4 linked regions of the Homo sapiens genome follow. The protein of the gene in region 1 interacts with the protein of each later gene in a biochemical or structural test. Each region holds a gene or a part of one and is shown in the gene's direction. Other genes may lie near its edges.

Region 1 (3,431 bases):
ATGTTTGTATTATGAACTTCTCCCCTGCAGGAATTATGTAATTCCTGTATCAATTTGTATGAAAACATTTTCATATGTCTTTTGAACTTTTAAAGAAATTTATTGATCAGAAATTTAAGTTAAGCATTAATTGGGTTCCAGCTTTGAATTCTTTAAATTTTAGGAGCATTTTTACCTGATATTATACTAGTTCATTGAACAGAGCTCTAGCCTGACATTTTCCCATTTCCCTGTTTACACCTTTGACTGTGTAAAGCACACACATATATACTGACCACGACCATCTAGAGTTTGAGGTATGAGTCATTTTTATTGTTTTGTTTACTGTAAGTTCCTTTTTGTTTGTTTTTTTTAATTACATCTTCAACACTTTATGTTTAAATCTTAATTGTTGATGTATTCTTAGAAAATCGAATCTTTAGGATCTAGGCTTTCCCTCATCCCGTGCTTATGTTTTACTAGCAATAATGCAAAATTTTAGCTTGCTTTCTACATTAAAAAACTAATTATGAATATAAACCTTTTTAAAAATACTCAATTAGATTTTCTACTGGTTGGGGATTCTTTTTCCATTTTTTCAACTTGTAAAATGTAAATAACAGAGTAGAAAATCTGCACACAGAAGCAGACCTAATACTACCAACTTTACTTTTCTCTTCATCAAAACAAACAATAATCAACAAAGAAACAAAAATCTGTCCACAGGAGACTGAATTTTTAGGGAACCAAAGCTGTTTCAAGCCAAAATCAGGGGCATGAATGAGCAGAGTGAAGAGTGATCAAACCATTAACGTAATGTTACTCATATCATTACTGCAGTCCAAATGACAAAAGTGACATAGATTTATTTTAGATTGTTAACATTTGTCCCGATCTGAACCTTGGAATAAGGAAACTACTCCTATAATCCTTATAAAAAGAGACATTGTCTCCTAACACCCTGCATTCATTAATTTGTAGTACTTCCAGATACCCTTATTTTTAGCTCATTTTGTTATTTTTAAATGATTCTTGAGTAGCATAAACTTTAACACACCAAGCTTTTATTTCTAATCATTGCATGTTTTATTATAGTGCATGCTGTACTTAAGTTAGAGCTTTCTTAAATTCTGTTAACTTATAAGTTTCCATCTAGACTTATTTTTGATTCAAATCAATCATATGAATCTTTTTAGTTGCTGATAGTCCAACTCCACCGCCACCACCTCCACCAGATGACATTCCCATGTTTGATGACTCTCCACCTCCCCCACCACCACCACCAGTGGATTATGAAGATGAGGAGGCTGCAGTAGTTCAGTATAATGATCCATATGCAGATGGGGATCCTGCTTGGGCCCCCAAGAATTATATTGAGAAAGGTAAGGTACAGTCATTGAGTTGATGTGAAGGAAAATAACCTAATTGTAGAAATTTAGAACTATAAAGAACATCTAATCCAATGTTTCTCAGCCTTTTAAACTGCCTTACCAACCAAGATGATTTACTTAAACCTTACTTCCTAAGTTTTGTATTATTCCCAGTGTACAGGGGGATTCTTTCTTTGTATTTTAAATAAAAGTTGCAGTGTTAGATTTGCTTTCAAACTACATATGCGTTCAGCTGAAGATTAACTTGCTGGACGGCATTTTATAGATGAAACAGCTAAGGCACAAAAATGGAGTTATATGTAATTAGTAAAGATTTTAAAAGTTCTGTCAAGCTCTATTGATTACCTTTCATATCTAAATATGGACGGTCCCTGATTTATGATGGTTCACTTTAGGATCTTTTCAACTTTATGATGGTACAAAAATGATATGCATTCAGTATGCTTCTCAACTTATGATGGAGCTTTGTCTGGATAAACCTGTTATAAGTAAAAAAAATACAAGTTGAAAATGTACTTTCAATTTACAATATTTTCCACTAAACAGTGGGTTTATTGGGACATAACCCCATTGTATGTAAGTGGAGGAGCATCGGTCTTTAAAAATATATTAGTACTATCATGAGAAAAGCCTCAATTAAGGTTTCAATTAGGTGATTTTATAAAACACAAGAGAAATTATCAGGATTGTATTTCATGAAATTATGAACTACTCTAAAGTCTAATTTACCTATAGTACCCGATATTCACTATAATTATCTATTAAGAAATATAGGTGGGGAAGAAACAAATCCTGTTTCTAGTTTTTATTTTTTCATCCAGTTCTGTGCTATTTTAAAATCTGTATTTCTTTTTGCAGAAGTGGGAATCAATTAAAAATAAAATCTGTATTTCTATAGAGTTCTGAAAAATGCTTGTGATTTAGTTGAACACTTTTGGTTGCCTTTGAAATATATTTCCTTCTATTGACTTTACTGGGTTAACGGACTTTAAGCTAGTAGATGTAGCTCTTGAGACCAGCAGCATTCTTTCCTGCCCAAGTTTTGGATATGTGGCAAAAGTAAATTTGTTTTCCTTTTATATTTTTTTATTTTTTGAGATGGAGTCTTGCTCTGTCTCCCAGGCTGGAGTGCAGTGGTGCAATCTCGGCTCACTGCAACTTCCGCCTCCCAGGTTCCAGCAATTCTCCTGCCTCAGCCTCTTAAGTAGCTGGGATTACAGGTGCCCGCCACCACGCCCAGCTAACTTTTGTATTTTTAGTAGAGATGGGGTTTTGCCATGTTGGCCAGGCTGGTCTTGAACTCCTGACCTCAAGTGATCCGCCCATCTCAGCCTCCCTGTGCTGGGATTACCGGCATGAGCCGAGCGTGGCCTTATATTTTTAAACAGTAAGTAATTTACATATTGTTAAGAAAGTCTTGAATATTCTACTTGAGATTCCCATATACCTTCAAATAGAGAGCTGTTGTTACTTACGAGGATGATAAACTTGAGTGACCTTGAATTGTGTTTTTACCCATATTTTCTTACTTGGTGAAGCCAATTAACTGTGAAAATGGGACCATATTTATATAAGTTGACAAATTTGGAATGATATATTGGGTAATATATTTGATAGTAGAGGAGGATTAAAAAGTATATTCCCAAGAACTAGGGGTGAGCACACTTTGTTTGGTATAAAGCCAGATAGTAAATATTTTAAACTTTGCTGGCTATACAGTCTCTGTCACAACTACTCAGTCCTGCTATTGTAGCGTAAAAGCAGACATAGACAATACATGAGTAAGTAGATGTGGCCATATTGCAATAAACCTTTATTTACAAAAATTGCGTGGTTTGGATTTGTCCATGGGCCATTTTATACATTTTGGATTACTTTCTCTTTCCATAGCAGTTTGCAAAGGAAGTGAATATAGGCTAAGCATCCCTATCTGAAAGTCCCAAATTCAAAATGCTCCAAAATCCAAAATGAGTTCCAACATGATGCCGCAAGTGGAAAATTCCACACCTGACCTCACGTGATGGGTCACAATCAAAATGCAGGCACATGACACAGTTTATT
Region 2 (3,500 bases), on another chromosome or scaffold:
GAACCCAACGGCCCTGTTTTGGCAAAAAATAACAGTTATGATACCCTGTTTCTTTTTGCCATTCAGCTGCAAAACCATAATAGCTATTGACATTGGTTAGCTTCTATTTCTCCATATAGTTCATTATTTCTCAGATGGATTTTTGTGAAATTCTGCACCCCAAATACAAAAAGAGCAGCCTGGAAATAGGTATTAATACCCTTCTCTTTGAAAGACCTGTTTTGCATACAGTAAATTCATGCCTTACGTACAGTAAATTAAATAAATAATATATAGCAAATTAAGTCTTAAGAAAAAGAATTTTAAAAAAGAAAATATCTTTGTATATTCAAAGAAATAAAAAAAAATAATCCGTATTGTCCATCTTTAGCCTCAAAGTGGTTCTCACATCAGGGACAGCATGGCCCTGTTGTTAAGTAATGATTGGCAACATCTTTGGTCATTCTGCACAGCAAAAAATTGTTTCCCTAAATTTCAGTAATACTACAGCTGATAAGTAGAAATTCAAGAGAGGAGTTAGAAATTCTCTGAGACAGATAACTTGCCTTAGGAAAAAATCCAATTTATAAAAGTGTTCCCCACCCCCTGCCCCCAGTCAAAATAGGGGTGCTACCACCTAGACACGTAAGACCAGTTACTTTCCAAACATTATAGACTTTTCCTAGGGCATCAGAACTTTTGATGCAGAGGATTCCTTGGAAAATGTTGCCATTGTTAGAAGATAAATCCTACTCATTTCCTCTTTGCCCAGCATACACCATTGCTTTAGAGGAGAAATGGCACGAGTTGATGTTTAAAAGATAGGCCTCAGCTTTGAGCACGGTCAAGCAAGCCCTTGTATTCTTATGTAATCACACCAGAAAGGGCTGAGTCTGTGTATTTCCCCAGTGGGAAGGGTGAGGTAGGCTTTGAGTTTCCCTAGGAAGTTGTTGCGCATGTTGTTTTGGGGCCCTGGGGAGAAGCTTGAATAGGCTTTGTGATCCAGAGAGTCATCAGGGGAGTAGATGGAAGGAACTTGTCTCCTTGGGTACGTTAATTGAAGGAAGGATAAGCTGTAACTGAGATGGACGCTTTTATTTTAATCCCCCCAAATGGGCACTAATAACCATAAATAAAAACAGGAAACCCAGTTGGTTTGTGTTTGATTTTTTTTTTTTTTTTTTGCTTATTAAATTTGAGCTTGTGCGTAACATCAATTAACATTCCATTCTTGCTGAAAGTTGATATGTTCAAACAGGAAAATGTAGACAAATTATTTCATAGAGGAAAAGGAGAAAGGCAGTCATAAATACACAATTTTTCAGTATCTAGTTTATACTGCATGCTTTATATTTCCTATAGTGACATAAGTAAAACATGTTAGCAGCTGAGAAGGATTCTAAAACAAAAATCAGACTTTATTGGAAAGAGTGACGGTTGGAATTTAATGGTAATAATAAAGGGTATGTTCCTACAGGGTACTGCATTTTAAAATTTCCCCACTCTTTTGTATTTTTCTATTTAAAGGAAATACCCATTTAATATAGTAATGCGTCGATTTATATACACATGGTGACATAAAAACTTGGAATCATAGTTTTTTAGACTGAACTGGTATGTATTTTTAGTGTCTCTTGAAGAGAAAAAGACTACACTCCTCTTCCTGGAAATACACATTTTTTAGTGGGTTATGTCATACAGGAACTGAGAATCAACTTAATTTGTGGAATGTTAAAGGAATTACAAGTTAACTGATTCAAAACTGACATCTTAAAACTATGAGAAATGCTAGTATTTTACTTACCTTGCAAAGCCTGACTCCAGAGGTACCCTTTCTAGTATCCCCTTCAGAAATTAATTTCTTTTTCCTCTCTGTTTCCAGAGTAATATTTTGGGTTTTTTTGTTTGTTTTTGTTTTTGAGACAGAGTTTCACTCTGTTGCCCAGGCTGGAGGGCAGTGGCCCTATCTCAGCTCACTGCAACCTCTGCCCTCCGAGTTCAAGCGATTCTCGTGTCTCAGCCTCCCAAGTAGCTGGGATTACAGGCCACCCCAGGCTAATTTTTGTATTTTTAGTAGAGGCAGGGTTTTGCCATGTTGGCCAGGCTGGTTTTGAACTCCTGACCTCAAGTAATCCGTCCTCCTCAGCCTCCCAAAGTGCTGGGATTACAGGCATAAGCCACTGTGCCCAGCCTATAATACTGTTTTCTGTCTTGTTTTTAGTTATTTGGGAATTTTATTTATCAGGCCATAAGTTCCTCGAAGGCAGATGCTCATCTTATTCAGCCCTAACACACAGTGCCTTGTTTATTTTGATAGGCACTCAGGAAATATTTTTCAGTGAATAAATTGACAAATGCTGACTTGCAGATATAAGCAGTTGAGTCATAACAGGAATAGAGAAGGAGCTATGTTATACATTTAATGGTCTCATTTGATGTGTGTCAATATTCCTCATAGCTACCTGGTAATATTAAGCTGAAGGACTTACTCCATATACCTTAAAATGGCTGAGTCCATTTTGCACCCTAGTCCTGATTGATTTATTGGCAGCACATATCTGTGTTCAAAATCATGAAAGCTATTAATACATGCTGTAGCTCAATCTCAAGTTAGGAGTGAAAAGTTGACGCAAACCCAAGTTCACAGTCTGTGTATTGTTTTTATCATAATCCTTTCTACTGCCTCAGGAACAAATTACATATATGAATTGAACTTCCTGTCCTGAACAGAAAGCTGTAGAGATAGAGGAATGTAGCATTATTGTAATTTTACTTATTTGAAGACTTTCTTTAGCCCCTTGTGTTTTGTTATTAAAGCAAGTTTTAGAAGAGGAGTCATATTCTTCTAAGATAATTAACATCCTCTAAATGAAAGAATGGGTGAATTACTAGACAACTTTTACTATCTATGTTAATATATATATATTTACATAATAAATGATATTTCTATTTGAACAATTATAAAAGCTTGTATTATTAGCTTCTTTCTGAAAACTTCAAAATGTTCTTACATATAGAACTTTGAGGGAGCAGTTAACAGTATTTATTTTCATTTTAAGTTCATGATCACCTGACAGATCCTGAAGTACTACTTCTCCTTAATTTCTGAGCCAGTATGCTCTATGCCAGTATTCAAGACAAGGCATCTTTTGGATTAATTGAGAAATTAGTTGTTCTAGACAGGTAAGCTTTCCAGGCATCTTAAGGTATAACCCTTTATATTATGATCTTTATTATTTTATTTTTCTAGTGAAAACAAGTTTCTTGTTAAGAAACACGAGTTTCATAAGTAGAATATACTTCATATGTTGGCCTTTGGTAGAAATTAATTTAGGACAGTAGCCTGGACCATAGTTGTAGCTGTAGGTGGTATGCAACATCGGGCTGAATGACTTATCTTGTCCTCATCTGATAAATTGAGGACTAATCAAAGAGTTAAATGTCTTTTGCCTAACTTTGCCAGGCTGCCTCCAACATGACATTCTGGTGTCTTTATGGGGTATTGGGTTCTTGCTGCTCAA
Region 3 (2,877 bases), on another chromosome or scaffold:
ATCATAAAATAATAGCATGTTTGCAGGCTGATGAACTGATTCAGTGAAGAAGGAAAATTAATAACAGGATAAATAAGGGAGAAATGACTCAGTATTTGAATAGGCAGAGAACTTGAGGCCTAGTGCATACATGGATAGTTAGCCTTGGGAGCAGGGAAACAGCTCTTATATAACATAATAGGAAGGCAGGCAGAACATATGGGGAAAGTGCTGTTAGGAAGAACTACTAGAGGAACTTACGGAGGTTTTCTTCTAACTATTTTATTCATAAATTAGGAAATGAGATCAGCTCAAGGTGAGGATTGGGGAATAGGGTTAGAAGTTTGTAGAGAGAAAGTAGAATATATTCAATACTTGTCTAAGACAGTGGGCAGTTACATGACCTTAGGCAGGACTTCTTGGCCTTTGAGGCTGGGTTATTCTCTGCTGTAGGAGAGGCTGACATTATAGAATGTTGTGTGCATCCCAGGCTTCTACCCACTGTGTGACAGCAGCAGCCTTTCCCCTTTTTCTCCCTCAATTGTGACGACCAAAAGTGTCTCCAGATATTCCCAAATGTCCTCTGGGGCCAAAACTGTCCCCAGTTGAGAGCCACCAGTCTAAGGAAATGTAGTATAATTGTCAGGAAGCATTAACAGCCAAGTTAAGGTTCATAATCATGAATTTAACATGAGATCATTCAGCATTGTTGTGTTATATTCAGCTGTGCAGGTGCAGGCACAGAATACGCAGAAAGTTAGGTTTAACCAGGATTGGGGTTTTGCCAAAGGAGTACAATGAAGAGACTAGAGAAGAGCCAGGGAGTTATTTTAATAATTGATCATGGCATTTATACCAGGCGAGGATAAAAGTGAGGAAAGATGGTAGGAACACTAGACTGTAGGTCCTACTGGGGTCAAGGATTATAGAGATTGGGGTTCTAGAGAGGGTGATGTAATATTAGGGATTTTCAAAAAGAACCTACTCCCTGTTGGTGTCTAGGAAGGAAATCTCAGATGGAGGAAGTGCAAGATGAACTCATCCACAGACTGACCATTGGTCGGAGTGCCGCTCAGAAGAAATTCCATGTGCCACGGCAGAACGTGCCAGTTATCAATATCACTTACGACTCCACACCAGAGGATGTGAAGACGTGGTTACAGTCAAAGGGATTCAACCCTGTGTGAGTCTCTCTGTGAATACTTTGCAATTCTGTGTGTACAACATGCATTGTTTTCAATTTGCTTAGTTAGATGTCACAGATAACTGTTATAAAACATAAGGGCACAGACTGCATACTTTGTGCCATACTCAAGAACTCACTATAGCTGTTCATAGCTGAAAAAGAACTAAAATAAGCATAAATAATTATTCTGATGCCACCCCATTTTCGAATTGGTAGTATCTGTTCATTATTAGTTCTTTAAGCAAACTATTGGCAGCTTTGAGGCCCAGTAGCTTCTTTTCTCCATCAGATTACTGTGATGTAACCTAGGTAGGACCATGGTCTTAGCTGAACTTCCTAGACCACATAGGACATAGAGCATAAGCTTTCCTCCTGCTGCAGGATATAGTGTCTCTGGCAAATAAAAAATAGTGTTACCTAGCATCAATTATAATCTTAATAGAACTTTTCCTTTAATAAACCCATAGTAAAGGTTCTATTTATCTATCTAAAAGTCTATAAACATTTCATATGTATTTGGCACAATGAACTATTAGAATAATACATATTCAAGGGACCTTGACATATTATAAACTCACCTACCCAGCATGATTGAAAAATGAGATACAATGGTTAGTCAATTGCCAGGTTACTAGAAAGTTATCTATTCCTTCTATAAAACACCAAATCCCAAGAATTGGTATTAAACAATGACCCTAAACCGAATTGGCTCATTTTTGATACTTTGTAATTAATAATCTGTATAGCCTCAGGGTCATCATCATGAAAGAAACTTGTCATTGCCCTAACTATAAAGACTGTAGTGGCATTTAATAAGGGTTCCAGGGTATGGAACGCTTAGAAAAGAGAAGTTACTAGCAGGAACAGATAATTTTCTCCTTTGTTTGTAGGCAATATTTTTAATGCTCAGTTTCTTTTTCCTTTTTTTTTTTTTAGGACTGTCAATAGTCTTGGAGTATTAAATGGTGCACAACTTTTCTCTCTCAATAAGGATGAACTGAGGACAGTCTGCCCTGAAGGGGCGAGAGTCTATAGCCAAATCACTGTACAAAAAGCTGCATTGGAGGTATGACTTGTCAACCTAAGGTGGTGTTTTTCTGCAAATTGAAAGCTCTGGAAACAACTATTTATGTCCATATTGGCCAATTTCCCTTTCTTAACAGAGCTGAATTAAATTTAACTCTGCTTTTGTAAATTTGTCACTGAGATCATCAATGACAGTTTCCAGAAGGTTAATTTGTTATAAATGCTCATATGATGTGAAGCTTGAGCACATACTTTTGGAAACTTGACAAAAAGCATAATGTTCTCATTTTATATGTATTGACTAATTCTATAGGAAATTTAATTTTGACATAACAATGGAAATTAGCTTCTGAGTGAGTAAGAGCCTTAAGAGGCCAGAATCCTTGCCTATTCTTAATATTTTTTTTTTTTTGGAGATTCTAATAACGTATAGGTTATAAGATTGTAAAACCCTGGCTGTGTGTGTTAGGTCTAGTAATACATCTCAATAATCGGGAAAGATACATTAGGTAGAGATCACTGAAAATAGAGAGCCTGGAAAAGTATTTAATCACAATGGTCTGTATGAAAGCAGGAGAGTCATGTTTTCTAGATTGCTTTATACTTAAGCTTCCAATATCCTATTTTAGACTTAAAATGTGCTATATACGGGTAGTAGTTTCCAACTGTTACATCTCACAGCTCTT
Region 4 (3,500 bases), on another chromosome or scaffold:
AATAACCATTTAAGCACTAACGTTAAATTTTAAATAATTCCTACTCAGCAATTTCAAGAAAATAATTTTATTAATACAGCTGTCTGCCTTATGTGTTAAAGCTAACAGCAGTATACTATGTACATATATAAACCAATATTATATTGAGTTGGTGAGAAATGTAGTATCTGTCTGTATTTACATAATAGATACTACACATCTATTATGTGGTAGTAAGTCTCATGAGTGGTATTTTATCCTTCAGAATATTATCCTTCCCAAGGGAAAGCTGTCCCCATGAATCTTGGGTAAATTTTACTAAATCCTTGAGGTTAACAATTCACATTTTATTTCATCTCTCTAAGAGCACATAACCTGTTACACATAGATGTTCTTAAATATTACCTATATAACAATGGTATCTTCATCAAAATGCTAACCTGTTATTTTCTATTCATACAGGACTCTCCAGAATCCGATGCTGAGCGAGAGAAGGATAAAAAAGAAAAAGATCGGGAAAGTGAAAAAGACAGAACTAGACAAAGATCAGAATCAAAACACAAATCGCCTAAGAAAAAGACTGGAAAGGATTCTGTAAGTATTTAGAATTGTTTCATGCCTGTATTTTCAAAATGCAAAAATGTATTCTGTGGTTAAACCATGATGGTGTTGAAAGAATAGGCTTTTTTCCAGGTGTGCTACCATTGAAGAAAACAGTGAAAATTCAGTTAAGTACATTTCACACAATATCATAGTTTTTGGTCATGCATGATCCTAGATTTTATTCTCCTAAATTTGATATTTTTTAAATATAGCATTTCATAACTATAGCCTTATTAACTCACTAAGAAAGGATATGGTCACTAAGAAGTGCCACTGGACATTTTTTACCTAATTTTCAAATTTTTTTTTTAAGTGAGAGACTAAATCTGGGATTCTACAGATGTCTACAGTTGTCACTGTTATTAAATCCTTTGTTTCAAAAGGTAGCAATTCCAGTAACTTTTAGAAATACTGATTTGGGGTGGAGGAAGGGCAAATAAATAGGAGAGGAGAATATAAGCCAAAGTTAGTATTTCAATAACAGATTACATAATTAGTCCTTTTCAAATATATGTATATATGAATGACAGAGCCTAATAATGCAAATGCTGTGGGTTTAGCAAGGGTAAATGCCTATGAATCATCACTGGAGAGCATAAACTATGTAGGTAAAACCCTATTAGGGATCTCTGGATATTCTGATTCGTTGGTATAGGGTGGGTTTTTTTTTAGAGCTGAAACAGGTGAGTCTGAGTCACATCGTAAGTGAAGAGTGAATGTTTCCTTTGTACTTTCTAGCAGCTTATGGTGGGTTAAATGAAATCCCTGGAGTGAATGAAAGAGGACGATATGGGAACTATCCACTTTTCAAAGGTTGTGTCTTACGGTGCAGTATTATTTTTGTTTGTTCAGCCTAAATCTTGTCCTGCTCATTAGTCTTGTGTATTTATTTGGCACAGGAATCCATATGCTTAAAGCATACTACTTCTGTTTCTGTGATAATACTTGTGGAACCAGGGGGAAGCTACAAAATTAGCAAGGAATAGGCCAGGTGCAGTGGCTCACACCTGTGATCCTAGCCCTTTGGGAGGCCGAGGTGGGCAGATCACGAGGTCAGGAGTCGAGACCAGCCTGGCCAACATGGCAAAACCCCATCTCTACTAAAAATACAAAAATGAGCCGGGCTTGGTGGCAGGCACCTGTAATCCCAGCTACTCAGGAGGCTGAGGCAGGAGAATTGCTTGAACCCAGGAGGCAGAGGTTGCAGAGAGCCGAGATCGTGCCACTGCACTCCAGCCTGGGTGACAAGAACAAGACTCTGTCTCAACAAAAAAATTAGCAAGGAATGTATTATCTAGGAAATGAATACCTGGCTTCCATTAAATGGAAATATTGCTTCATATTCACACAGTCTTTAAACCCTGTGAAATGTGTTTCTTTGGAAGAGAGTTTATATAGATATTGGATTCTTTTTTCAAAGGCTCAGCCCGTAAACCTCTGAGTACTGATGTCAACTATAATTGTAATCAATGTCTTTTCAGGGTAATTGGGATACTTCTGGCAGCGAACTGAGTGAAGGGGAATTGGAAAAGCGCAGAAGAACCCTTTTGGAGCAACTGGATGATGATCAATAAATTATACCAAATATATGTTTACAGTATGATTTAAAGTCTGATTCAGACCAGGGACTCTATTTTAAGTTCAACTGAAATAACACTGGGTTTTAATTATATCACAGGAAAAAAAAAGTGCATTTAAGTATTGTTATCGTGGACTTTATAAAAGCAAAGGAAATTGAAAGTAACTTTTGATTCTGTATCAAGAATCATATTTTCATACAGTCATAACTGTCTTTCTGTGACCCTTTCACAGGGCACTGTAGGATGGATTAAAGGTGGCAATTTACTGATAACTGCAGATGTCTCTACTTTGTTCTAAAATCTAAGTCATGAGGTGATTTGATTTACTTTATAGAAGCTGGATTTTGAAGATCTAATGAAAAATTTTTTGATAATATAGTAGTACAAAAAAAGCACCAGCAACTGATAAAAATTGCTTTTTTGTGCGCTACCCAACTGGTTAAAGCCAATGTGATCTTTTATGGTGAAACTCCTAAGAAACAGGTGGTTTTGCTGGAAACTTGGTAGACCCTTAATTATAGTGGTGCTAATGAGCACTACTGTAATATAAAGCCACCATTATTTTTTATCAAACATCTGAATACATTTTACAAAGGCTATTGTGAGGGCATTATTTTGAGCATCTATTTTGAGGTGATGTTTAAAAAAACTTTAACATCAAATCAAATTGTAAATTAATTTAAATATATTGCCTTAAGGACCTACTAAAGAATGTGCCACCAGACTTTAAGTGATAGTTGCAATATCCTTGTCTAAAAAAAAAAAAAAAGTTGACTTAAACATTTTCTTTAACAGTTGTCTTTTTTTTCTAAATTCAGTCTTTCTCTTGCTTTTTTTTCCCTGCTATTGAGGAAGTATTTTGCCTTCCCTACTCACTGAGAAGTATTGACTTCGTGGTACACATTCTAAAGCATTTCTGATTTGAATATTTTTGTACATTTTTATCAATTATTAAACCTTCTCTTCTAGTGTGTACTAGTATTTATTTCTACTTAAACTGCTCAGCTCTAAAGAAATTGTATGATCACTTTAAAGGTACTAAATCCCTGAAATTTTGCTTCATCTTACCCACACCGCTAGTTTACTTTCCTTTTTTAATATTTAAGAATATTATAAATCAGTGCATTTGAGGTCCCTAGATTTGTTTTTCACCTATGAATTTTTTACAGACTATTTTAGAGAGGCTGTGGTTTGAAGACAGAATACTCTTTACATGCTAACTTTTGAAGGTTGGTAATGTAATTTATACTATTTTCCTTCAGTGCAGGAGATTTTTTAAGTAAATAAGTAAATTTTAGCACCTATTCTTCGGTATTATCTGTGTTATTCTTTTAATGT

The links.
Region 2: of the proteins of ABI1 (region 1) and CDK6, one has a biochemical effect on the other in vitro, tested with the Homo sapiens proteins (one large-scale study listed by IntAct).
Region 3: the proteins of ABI1 (region 1) and EPS8 form a complex in vitro, tested with the Homo sapiens proteins (one study listed by BioGRID).
Region 4: the proteins of ABI1 (region 1) and PRPF40A form a complex in vitro, tested with the Homo sapiens proteins (one study listed by BioGRID).

Annotation. Positions count from the first base shown.
Region 1 is NC_000010.11:26,749,528-26,752,958, reverse strand, and holds part of ABI1 (abl interactor 1), read left to right. Parts: intron 1-1,175; coding exon 1,176-1,361; intron 1,362-3,431. UniProt on the Homo sapiens protein: May act in negative regulation of cell growth and transformation by interacting with nonreceptor tyrosine kinases ABL1 and/or ABL2. May play a role in regulation of EGF-induced Erk pathway activation. Involved in cytoskeletal reorganization and EGFR signaling.
Region 2 is NC_000007.14:92,721,574-92,725,073, reverse strand, and holds part of CDK6 (cyclin-dependent kinase 6), read left to right. Parts: intron 1-3,500. UniProt on the Homo sapiens protein: Serine/threonine-protein kinase involved in the control of the cell cycle and differentiation; promotes G1/S transition. Phosphorylates pRB/RB1 and NPM1.
Region 3 is NC_000012.12:15,622,512-15,625,388, reverse strand, and holds part of EPS8 (epidermal growth factor receptor kinase substrate 8), read left to right. Parts: intron 1-981; coding exon 982-1,162; intron 1,163-2,101; coding exon 2,102-2,231; intron 2,232-2,877. UniProt on the Homo sapiens protein: Signaling adapter that controls various cellular protrusions by regulating actin cytoskeleton dynamics and architecture. Depending on its association with other signal transducers, can regulate different processes.
Region 4 is NC_000002.12:152,654,962-152,658,461, reverse strand, and holds part of PRPF40A (pre-mRNA-processing factor 40 homolog A), read left to right. Parts: intron 1-441; coding exon 442-573; intron 574-1,320; coding exon of another isoform or gene 1,321-1,338; exon of another isoform or gene 1,339-2,063; coding exon 2,064-2,156; 3' UTR 2,157-3,500.